Regions from separate parts of the Homo sapiens genome. Here region 1 is linked to region 2. A link means that fine-mapping ties the variant in region 2 to the expression of a gene that starts in the linked region. Tissue or cell type: whole blood. Region 2 holds a variant in brackets; the other region holds the start of a gene. All regions are shown on one strand. Distances are from middle to middle.

Region 1 (5,000 bases), 370 kb before region 2:
TCATAAAACAGCCCAAGTCAATAGGGAAGAAAATAAATGGGAACCTGCTTGTAGCTGCTAGAACAAGCATCCTTAAGAGTTTATTCAACCTCTTACAGTGGCTCTAATGGTTCTTTTCCTCTGTGAGCTAAATACAATTTTCTGGCAAGAACTCAAGATGCTCTCATTTCTACCTTACACGATAGATGGCCTTTTTCACCCCATATCAATTGCTTTTCCTGCTATGCCTGTATCTTTTTCTTTCCAATCCCAAAGCTTTTTCCTATACAGCATAAGAATCATGGAGTATCTAAAACATGGAACACAGCTTTTTCCATACTTTTACTGTCAAATATGGAAGGAGAGCCAAAAAGAGGTAATAAAAAAGGTGTGTCATTATCAGTTATAAGGGAAATATAAATTAAAACCACAACTAGATACTATATGCCCACCAGAATGGTTAAACAGAAAATACCAAGTGCCGACCAGGAAGCAGAGTAACTGGAAATCATACACTACTCAGAATGTACAGTGGAACAATCTCTGGAAAACTACTTGGCAGTCTCTGCTAAAGCTGGCTACCCTAAGTCCCAGCAACTCCATACCTTGGTAATATACCAAAAAGAAATAAAGGCATACAGCCAGCAAGACACAAAATGTGCCCTATTCATAATAACCCAAGAGTGAAAGCTACCAACGTTCATCAACAGACAAATGGGATATATTCATGCAATGGAATGTTATAAAAATAAGTCACCTCCAATTATATGCTACAATATGGAGTAATCTTGATATTGAAAGTGAGAAAGAATATATTCTATATGACTTTATTTATATAAACTTTGAACACAGGCAAAACTATCCTATGAAGTCAAAACAGTGCTATACTTGGACATCAAGAACAACTGGAAGGAGACAGAGTGGGTTTTCGGGATGTTGATAATGTTCTATTTCCTGACTGGGATGCTGGTTAGTTGAGTGTTCACTTTATGAGACTGAGCTAACACTTAAGTACACTATTCTCTGCTATACTTCAATAAAACTAAGAAGATAGGAAAGACAGGATTTAAGCTAAAGTATCATCAATCATTTCTCCAATGATTCCCTCCCACTTCTCTATAATTAATCCCTATGCATTTACTCATCTGGGTTTATCCAGTACAACAAATTCCTTTCTACATATTCCAACTGTGCTTTGTACGGCTATTTAAGAAAAGTGACTATTTTTTAAAGTTGTTATATAAGTGACAAAGAAAAACTGAAAGTTTAAACATTCTTTATACCTATGTAAATACTTTATCACAACCCCGTAGGACATTTCTGCATACAATAATTAGGATCAAAACTATGTCTATTTTAACATAATGGAATAATCACTAGAAACAAGAACACAGATGTGTATCTCAAGCTTACATTCTAATACCTTGAATATAACTACAAAATGTATTTCTGAATCAGCTTTGTTTCCTTCTGAGTTCAATAATTCAAAACATTCACAATAAAAAAATTTTTTTACGTGTAGTACAGAAAGCACAAACATACTCTGATTAACAAAGTAACAACCACATTATTCCAGTAAATTAACCCAGAGTTGTAGGAAAAAGGGTGTACTTACTGTGTAACTGGAAGAATAACCTGAAGGGTAAAATTCAGGGGCATTCACAGACAGCTTAGACATTAATACAGGAGCTACAACCACCTGGGGCTTAGCCATTGCTGACTCCGAGTTCTGCTGTGGGATTTTATCCTGTGAACTAGGTGGAGCTCTCAGGGGCCTCGTTTGCTCTGCAAAAGAAAAAAAAACGGGGCGTCAGATGCATTCTTTCCTTTGTACAGCAACTTGCTATATACTGAAAAACCATCTGAAAAGCGTCTGTTTTTAAGAGTTAAACAGGAACCATCATGAAATTTATGGTTATCGCCGGAATGTGTACAGACAGCCTACAAAAAGGAACAATAGACTTGCTGTGACTCCGTTATGGGCATACCTGCCTCTCAAATGAGTGCTTGCGAGCTTTTTTCCTCTCTGTCGTTTTAAAGGGGTCGGTGGAAAAGAGGTGGTTACTCGCTAGGGTCTCGCTTTAGAGGGCTGCTGAGGGGAGGCGATTTTTACTTCCTCCCGGGACCCCGAACTCCGAGACCGCGCACCCGGCCCCTCCCCCCAGCCAGGCGCACAAAGGATTCCAGCAGACACCTTCCAAACCCGGTTCCGGGCCCGTCCCTACCCGGTCACGCGGCCCTCTCGGGGAATGCTTTCGGGGAACCGGGGGTGGGGACCGCAGACAGCGCGTCGGGCCTCGGCACGCGTGGAGGGCCGTGGGGAAGCGTTCGCCAAGGAGGACTGGGGCCCTTAGAGCTGCTCCGTACCTGGGAGCGCCCCGGGCCGGGAAGGCCGCTGGGGGCTGGCGGGGACCTCGCACTGGGCCCCTGGCGGCGGGGTCGTCCTGGGCTGGCGCAGCGGCGGTGGCTGCAGGAAGCCCGGGGCTTTGGGTTGCGGCGGCTGGTGCCGCGCCCGCTCAGCAGGCCCCGCTCCGTTCGGGAAACCGCCGCCCTCAGGCCCGCCCCCTCCGCGGCCCAGGCCCCGGCTCCGGCCCCGACCAGCACCTGGGGCCCGATCGAAACCGTCCGACATGCTCCTCCTCCTCCGCCTCCTCCTCCAGGGGCCGCTGCCGCTGCGCTCGCGATAGGACGCGGGGGGAAGGCGCCGCGGGTCGGCTATAGCCGCCGCGCCTCACTCGGGCCTCATGGAGGAGGAGGGCGGCGGGCCCCGGCTCGGCTGCTCGGTGCTTCTGGCGGAGCGGACGGCAGCCCGAGCACCCGCCGCTCCAGAGCGCCCGCCCCGCTCGGCTACCCTCGGCTTTCCAGTTCTCCCCCAAAACCCGGCTCCCCGCCTTCGGCGCGGCAGGGGCGCAGGCGGGTCACAGCGGCCCCCTGCGGCCCGGAGGCCCGGGACGCGCCCGCGAGGATCCTCCAGTTCGCGGCTGGCCGGCCGCCGGGCCCAGCAGGCCGCCCGCCGAGTGGCGTCTTGGCCACCTGCCGGCCCGCAGCCAGGCTCGGGCAGGGGCATCTCGGTTCCGGGGCCAGGCTGGGGGGGATGAGGGATGAGGGGTGAGGGGGACGCTTACCACAGGCAGGCCCGACCTACTCGGTAGTTCTCAGGAGAGACGTGCGAGACCGACAGTTGACGCCCGGGAAATAAAAACACGGGGGGAGGGGGCGTGGACCCTGCGCCAGGGTTCGCTGGCGCACAGGTGTGTTCAATGACTCGGCTCCGGCCGAGACCCGCGGACTGCTGAGGAGTGGTCCCTGGGAGACTGTCACCTGCTCCGTTAGCATCGGGGGAAGGGAGTAGAAACGGAATCAAAATATGTGTCCCCTCTTTAATTCACCCTAGGTGTTTACCACAGTAGGTCACACCTACGTTTAACAAGCTTCGTTCTCTTCCCGTTAACCTTCCCCTCCAGAAATTTCAAGAAAATGTGCTACCTTTCAGTGTAACTCTGCCCTCTTTTTCATCTTGCATCAGTGCTGTCCAATGAAAATATAATGCGAGCCACAAATGCAAGCCACTTATGTAATTTTACATTTTGGAGAAGCCACATTAAATGAGTGAAAAGAAACAGGTGTGGCCAGGCGCAGTGGCTCACGCCTGTAATCCCAGCACTTTGGGAGGCCGAGGGGGGCGGATCACCTGAGGTCGGGAGTTCGAGACCAGCCAGACCAACATGGAGAAACCCCGTCTCTACTAAAAATACAAAGTTAGCCGGGCGTGGTGGCACATGCCTGTAATCCTAGCTATTCTGGAGGCTGAGGCAGGAGAATCGCTTGAACGCAGGAGGCAGAGGTTGCAGTGAGCCGAGATCGTACCGTTGCACTCCAGCCTGGGCAACAAGAGCCAAACTCTGTCTCAAAAAACAAAACAAAACAAAACAAAAACCAGGTGAAATTAATTTAAATTTATTTAATCCATTATGTTCAAAATGGTTTTTTAACATGCGATTTAAAATATTAAATATTTTCTCTGTTTTTTAGATACTAGTTGAAATCCAGTGTATATTTTACACTTATGGCACATCTTAGTCGGGATTGGCACATTTCAAGGGCTCAAGAGCCACATGTGGCTAGTGGCTACTGCGTTGCACAGCACAATTCTAGATTTTATTAATATGTAAATTGTTGTTTTTGTCAGGCCTGACAGTATTAATGCCAAATAAAGGATAGATGAATATAAGTAACGACAAGGAAGGAAAAATTGATTTCTTTACTGTTGGATTGATCCATCTCCATAAATTCTGATTTTAGCCTTTTGTTTTAAGCAGGGTTTCATGTTTTTCTATCTTTTCATCTTAAGAATCATTTCAATTAGGGACACAAACTCTTGTTAACCGTTTTCTCTTCTCATTAATAAAGAAAACAATGTCTTCCCCTAAACGAATGAGAAAATGGCTTCACCGAGGGCAATCATGAATAAATGGTTCATGCTATTGATGTTAGGCAAAATAATGAAGTCAGGGAAGGAAGCCAGCAGTACGTGTGGCTCTTCGGTGTACGGAAAGTTTAGGATTCAGTCTGCCAGAGCTTAGTTGGGATTCCACTCTTGACTATTGCTGTCTGTGTGATTTTGAGTAAGTAAGGGGTTTAGCTTCTCTGAGCCTCACTTTCCTCATCTGTAAAATAATAACTGTGTGGTAACACTCAGCATATATTGCAGAGACAAGATTACAATTTAAAAATTACAATTTTAATATTTTCAAATTCATTATTGTATGTGGTCACCAGTCACTTCTTGCCTGGACTTTTTTATCATACAGGAAAGACCCATAAACTATGCTAAAAAACTAACAATGAGTTATGTTCCACTGAAGTAGATGCCCCAACTCTGCCCCAAGCTTTTGTTTGCACTCACCACCTTTTCATTTCCCCTTAAAACTTTTATGATGAACAGCACCTTTTCTAACAACTGGGACTTTCCCATGTGAAGATAAGGCCATTCTGCATCCATGGTGATGTCACGACATCTT
Region 2 (6,290 bases):
CCTTCTTGTACTTGGATATTGACATATTTCTCTAGCTTGTATAATTTCTCTGTTATTATCCCTTTGAATAAACTTTCTACCCAAAGAGTAGAGTTCTCTACTTACTTAGATTTCCCCTTTTGAGGCCATTTTCTAGATCCTGTGTGTGTGCTTCACTGTTTTTTATTCTTTTTGCTTTTGTCTCCTATGACTGTACATTTTCAAATAACCTGTCTTCAAGCTCACCAACTCTTTTTTCTGCTTGATCAATTCTGTTATGAAAATACTCTGATGCATTCTTCAGTATGCCAATTGCATTTTTCAGCTTCAGAATTTCTGCATGATTCTTATTTTTAATCTCTTCATTTAATTTATCTGGTAGAATTCTGAATTCCTTCTATGTTTTCTTAAACTTCTTTGAGTTTCCTCAACATAGCTATTTTGAATTCTCTGTCTGAAAGGTTACATATCTCTGTTTCTCCAGGATTGGCCCCTGGTGTCTTATTTAGTTCATTTGGTGAGATTATGTTTTCTTGAAAAAAAATTTTTTTTTGACAGAGTCTCACTCTGTCACCCAGGTTGGAGAAGAATGGTGCAATCTTGTCTTACTGCAGATTCCCCACCCTGGGTTCAAGTGATTCTCCCACCTCAGCCTCCAGAGTAGCTGGGATTACAGGTGCCCATCACCACACCTGGCTAATTTTTGTATTTTTAGTAGAGACGAGGTTTCACCATCTTGGCCAGGGAGGTCTCAAACTCCTGACCTCAAGTGATCCACCAGCCTTGGCCTTCCAAAGTGCTGGGATTACAGGCATGAGCCACTGCACCCAGCCTTTCTGAAATATCTTGATACTTGTAGATGTTAATTTATATCTGGGCATTGAAGAGTTGGGTATTTATTGTAGTCTTTTCAGCCTGAGCTTGGTTTTATCCATTCTTCTCGAGAAGGCTTCCCAGATATTCAAAATGACTTGGGTCTGTGATTCATGCTCTATCTGCTTCAGGGGGCACCCCAAGCTCAATAACACTGTGGTTCTTGCAGACTTGTAGACGTACTGCCTTGATGGTCTTGGACGAGGTCCAGGAGAATTATTTGGATTACTAGGTAGAAACCTTATTTTCTTTTCTTACTTTCTCCCAAATGAATTAAGTCACTCTCTCTCTTCTGAGTCACCTAGGACTTGGGATGGAGTAATATGAACATTCCCGTAGTCACCACCACTATGTCTATACTGGGTCAGACTTGAAGCTAGCACAGCACTGTCTCTCTCATCCAAGGCCATCTGAAAAAACTCCCTGGTTATGGCCTATGTTCACTCAAGGCCCTGGGGCTCTATAACCAGCAAGTGGCAAAGTCAGTCAGGCTTATGTCCTTCCCTTCAGGATGGTGAGTTCCCCTAGGCCCCAGGTGTGTCCAGAGGTGTTATCAGGAGCCAGGGACTACAGTCAATAACCTTAGAAGTCTGCCTTGTGTTCTTTTGTACTGCAACTGAGCTGACACTCAAGCCACAAGATGCAGTTCTTCCTACTCTTTACCCTCTCCTTTCCAAAGGTAAAGGAGCCTCATCCTTTGGCCACTGTCACTGCAGATGCAGGACCACTGCCAGACTACCACCAATATTCCTTCAAGACCCAGGGGCTCTTGACTCAACTGATGGTGAATGCTGTCTGGCTTAGGACTCACACTTCAGGGTAATGGGCCTCTCTCTCGCCCAGGGCAGGCCCAGAAATGCCATCCAAGAGCCAAGTCCTGGAATCAGGGACCCAAAAATCTTGCTTGGTGCTTTACTCTACTGCGGCCATGCTGGTATCTTTGACACAAGTCAACGTCTCCTTTACTTTTCCCTCCACTTTTCTGAAATGGAGGGACTCTTGCCCCATATCTGCCTCAGCTGGGAATGTGCTGATTCTCACCTGAAGTCAGCTAGTCTGACAGTCTCATCCAAGGCTCTTGAGATAGTACCTGGATATTTCTGCTGATTATTCTGGACTCAAGGGCTCTTCAGTTAACAGGTGATAAATCCTGCCTGGACTGGGGTTTTCTTTTCAAGACAGCAATTTTCCTTCTAGCCCAGGGTGTGTCTGGAAATGCCATCTGGGAACTAGGTCCTGGAAAGGGGGCCTCACATCTCTGATTGGTACCATATCTGGCTGTGACTGAACTGGTATCCAAAATGCAAGACAAAGTCCTCACCACTTCTCCCTCTCCTCTCCTCAAGCAGAGGGAAGAGGTCTCTTTTAGAGCCTGAAGTTAGAAGATGGAGTGACTTAACAGTGTATTTTGAAAACACCAGTTTTTAATTTGATGAAGACTAGTTTATTGCTTTTATTTCCTTGATGGTTTGTGTGTGTGTTTGTGTTTTAGGAAATCTGCCTAATCCAATATTCAATAATAATCTCTCTTAGGTCTTCTTTTAGAAGTTTTTAGGTTGAAATTTTATGTTTAGTTCTATGATCATTTTTTTACACTTAATTTTTGTGTATGGTATGATGTAAAGATAAAGACTCCCTTTTGCTCCCTCATATATCCATCTGTTTCAGCACCACCAGTCATTGAAAAAGTCTACCTTTACACCGTTAAATTATTTTGGGACCTTTTGTGAATATCCATTAGCTACATATTGATAGATCCATTTATGAACACTCTATTCTGTTTTTGTTGATCTATATGTCTATGCTTAATAAAATATTACATTGCTCCAATTACCAGAGCTTTATAATAAGTCTTGAAGTCAGATAATATAAATGCTCCAACTTTGTTCTTTTTCAAAAAGGACTTGGTTAATCTAGGTACATTGCATTTCTATATAAATTTTAGAATTACCTTTCAATTACTACTGAAAAGCAAAACAACTAAAGCAACCAAAAAAAAACCCAATATTAAAAAACATTTTTTCTGGGATTTTTGAATAAGATCATATTGAATCTACATATCAATTTGTGAACTGACGTATTAACAATCTTCAATATCTCTTTTTTTATTTCCATAGGTTTTTGGGGAACAGGTGGTATCTGGTTACATGAGTAAGTTCTTTAGTGGTGATTTGTGAGATTTTAGTCACCCATCTCTTGAGCAGTATACACCAAACCCAATTTGTAGGTATAATTCTTCATCTGTTTAGGTACTCTTTAAGTTCTCTTAGCAATGTTTTGTAGCTTTCAGTGCACAGGCCTTGCACATGTTTTCTTAAATTTATCCCTAAACTTTTGAATGCTATTATAATATATGTATTTTTTCAAATTTTATTTTCCCATCTTTCTTTGTTA[G/C]TATACAGCACATAATTGATTTTCCATATTTACTATGTATTTTGTGACCTTGTTAGTACTAGTATTCCTTTTGTAGGTTTCTTATAATTTTCAATGTTTATTATCATGTCACTGAAGAGAGACAATTATTAATTATCAAATGCAAATATTCAGATCATTTACATTTAATGTAATTTTCTATATTATTGGATTTAAATCTGCGGTTTATTTCTTTTTTCTTTTGTTCTATGTTTTGCCTATTATTTTGTCCCTCTTTTCCTCTTTCATTGTCTTTTTACAGATTGAGTGATTTTTTAGTGCTTCATTTTACCTTCTCTGTTGCCTTATTAGTTACACCTCTTTAGTCTATTTAGTGGTTATTCTAGTGTTTACAGTATGCATTTTAAGTTATCACGGTCACTTAATATTATACTACTTCTTAGTCAGATTTTTCACAAATTACTTTTTTAATCCTTTATTTTACTTAACCATTTATCATTATTTGTCAAAGGTTATCAGATGATTGCAACGATTGAATTAATTTATTAATTCTTTTTAAAAAATGAATTGCTCAATCTTTAATGTTTTGCTTTTCTTTCACTATTTGTCTTTGTGTTTGTATCCTGTATACACAATCACCTCTTCCTGTGGGTCTCTTTATTTTCTAGGATGAGTCACCGTCATTCCTAATGGGCTTTATCTAATCTCTTTCTGAAGTTCTGCAGAGGTTAACTTAAGCATCTTCACAAGCAAGTTTATTTCAGAGATCAGCTGCTCATACTGTGAAGAAGAGGTATTACTGAGGGTAGTCTTCAGCCAGGCTTTGTTTGCTCCTGTTCAGATAAAGGGTACCTACCCATTTTTGAATTACTTTATTTCTCTATTTATTTGATTACTGAAAAAGCTGCTACTGGGTTTGTTGAGGGTGAGATCCTTGCAAAGTGGGTTATTTTTTAAATTGGTCCCTGAGGAACATTGAGGAGGTTTCTTAAACCTCTCTGATGTTGAACATAACTCTGTATAGTATGAAATTTACCATATTCACTTCTGCTTAGAAGAAACTTTCAGCTGATGTTGTCTTTAAAACAAAATGTCAAATTCTGTTTGAAGACATGAAGATAGAAGCCCCTTGTGTCTTAACTTTAGTGTAATTTATTGTTATGTGAAAGTGGTAATTTGAAAGAAGATAGTGCTGAGTTAAATAATTCAACATTGTTGAAAAGTGTTTTTTTAATTGACATAACCTTTGAATTTTTGTATTTTACATATTCATTTCATCATATAGCGAAAATTAACCTACATGGTCTTCTTGTATTATCAAGTGGATTTGAAATTTAACACCTTAGCTAGGTAGCCTTGGGATATAATTTAAATCCTCTGTTCTTTAGTTTCTTCATCTCTACAACAGTGATAATGATAGCACCTACCCCATAAGATTGTTCTGAAAATTAAATGAATTTATTATACATAAGGTGCTTGGAAGAATGCTTGACTTGTAATTATTACTCAATATTTGTTAACTGCTATTACCTCATCTAATATTATTTTAAAACTATTCTTTAGTGAGCAAGATAAGAGAAAATAGAAAACAAAAACAAAACAGAAAAAATTTAATGTAGGATATGAACAGACACTTCTCAAAAGAAAACATTTATGTAGCCAACAAACATATGAGAAAAGCTAATCATCCCTTGTCATTAGAGAAATGCAAATCAAAACCACAATGGGATACCATCTCATGCCAGTTAGAATGGCGATTATTAAAAAGTCAGGGAACAACACATGCTGGCCAGGTTGTGGAGGATGTGGAGAAATAGGAATGATTTTACACTGTTGGTGGGAGTGTAAATTAGTTCAACCATTGTGGAAGACAGTGTGGCGACTGTTCAAGGATCTAGAACCAGAAATACCACTTGACCCAGCAATCCCATTACTGGGTATATACCCAAAGGATTATAAGGCATTCTACTATAAAGATACATGCACACATACATTTATTGCAGCACTATTCACAATAGCAAAGACTTGGAACCAACCCAAATGTCCATCAAAGATAGAGTGGTTAAAGAAATTGTGGCACATATACACCACGGAACACTATGAATCCATAAAAAAGAATGAGTTCATGTCCTCTGCAGGGACATGGATAAAGCTGGAAACCACCATTCTCAGCAAACTAACACAGGAACAGAAAGCCGAACACTGCATGTTCTCATAAGTGGGAGTTGAACAATGAGAACACATGAACACAGGGAGGGGAACAACACACACTGGGGCCTGTTGGGGGTTGTGGGGAGCATTAGGACAAATAGCTAATGCATGCGGGGCTTAAAACCTAGATGATGGGTTGACAGGTGCAGCAAACCACCATGGCACATGTGTACCTGTGTAACAAACCTGCATATTCTGCACACATATCCCAGAACCCAAAATAAAAGAAAAAAATGTAATCTATCCAGTTAAGGGAATGAAAATGATCAATAATGGAATTTGGTAGAGTATTTCCCAGAAAAGACAGAGAATACATACAAGATTGTTCTGCTTAATGGAGAAAGCCTATAACATTATCTTTTAAAAACAGCAATGACAACAACAACAGCAGGAATCCAAAACCAAGCCGTCCCATTGGGAAGCTCAAGTTATTAATAGTTGAAAGTCAGTTTGGATTTTCTTTTTGAAAAAAAATCTTTCCCAATATTTGATGTTTGCTTATTTTCATTACAGTTACACAATGTGATATTTATTTGCTTTTTAAGCAAGTAATAGGAAAACAAGGAGTATTGAGTTTATACTTATCTCTGCTACATCAGCTTTTTCCCATTTTCTTTTATTTAGAATTTATAGTAAACTCATCAAATAACATCATTTTTGGTTTGCCACCGCTTGTATTGTTATGTTTGTTTTTTATTTTTCATAGAATGAGAGTTTGAGCTACACATTCAATTTCATTGATAGTAAACTTCCTCTTGTCTGGATGATGTCTTTGTGGGTTTTGTAATGTTAACCATTCATGATGAAAATGATGTAAGCTTTCCTCTACTCTCTACAAAAAACTAGAGATAGAC

The links. PIP is the estimated chance that this variant, and not a neighbour inherited with it, causes the effect.
Region 1: it holds the start of PAIP1, and the variant in region 2 is fine-mapped to the expression of PAIP1 in whole blood (INTERVAL, PIP above 0.99).

What each region holds. Positions count from the first base shown.
Region 1 is chr5:43,554,236-43,559,235 of GRCh38, forward strand. PAIP1 (poly(A) binding protein interacting protein 1) reads right to left here and starts at 2,842. Exons shown (of 11, transcript NM_006451.5): 1 at 2,347-2,842; 2 at 1,595-1,764. The coding sequence starts at 2,611. RefSeq lists a silencer at 2,278-3,137.
Region 2 is chr5:43,923,210-43,929,499 of GRCh38, forward strand. No RefSeq gene overlaps it. Among named protein-coding and RNA genes, the nearest start is that of NNT-AS1, 320 kb to the left of the region's middle. RefSeq lists an enhancer at 2,635-2,804. The variant G/C (reference allele first, on the strand shown) is at 3,247.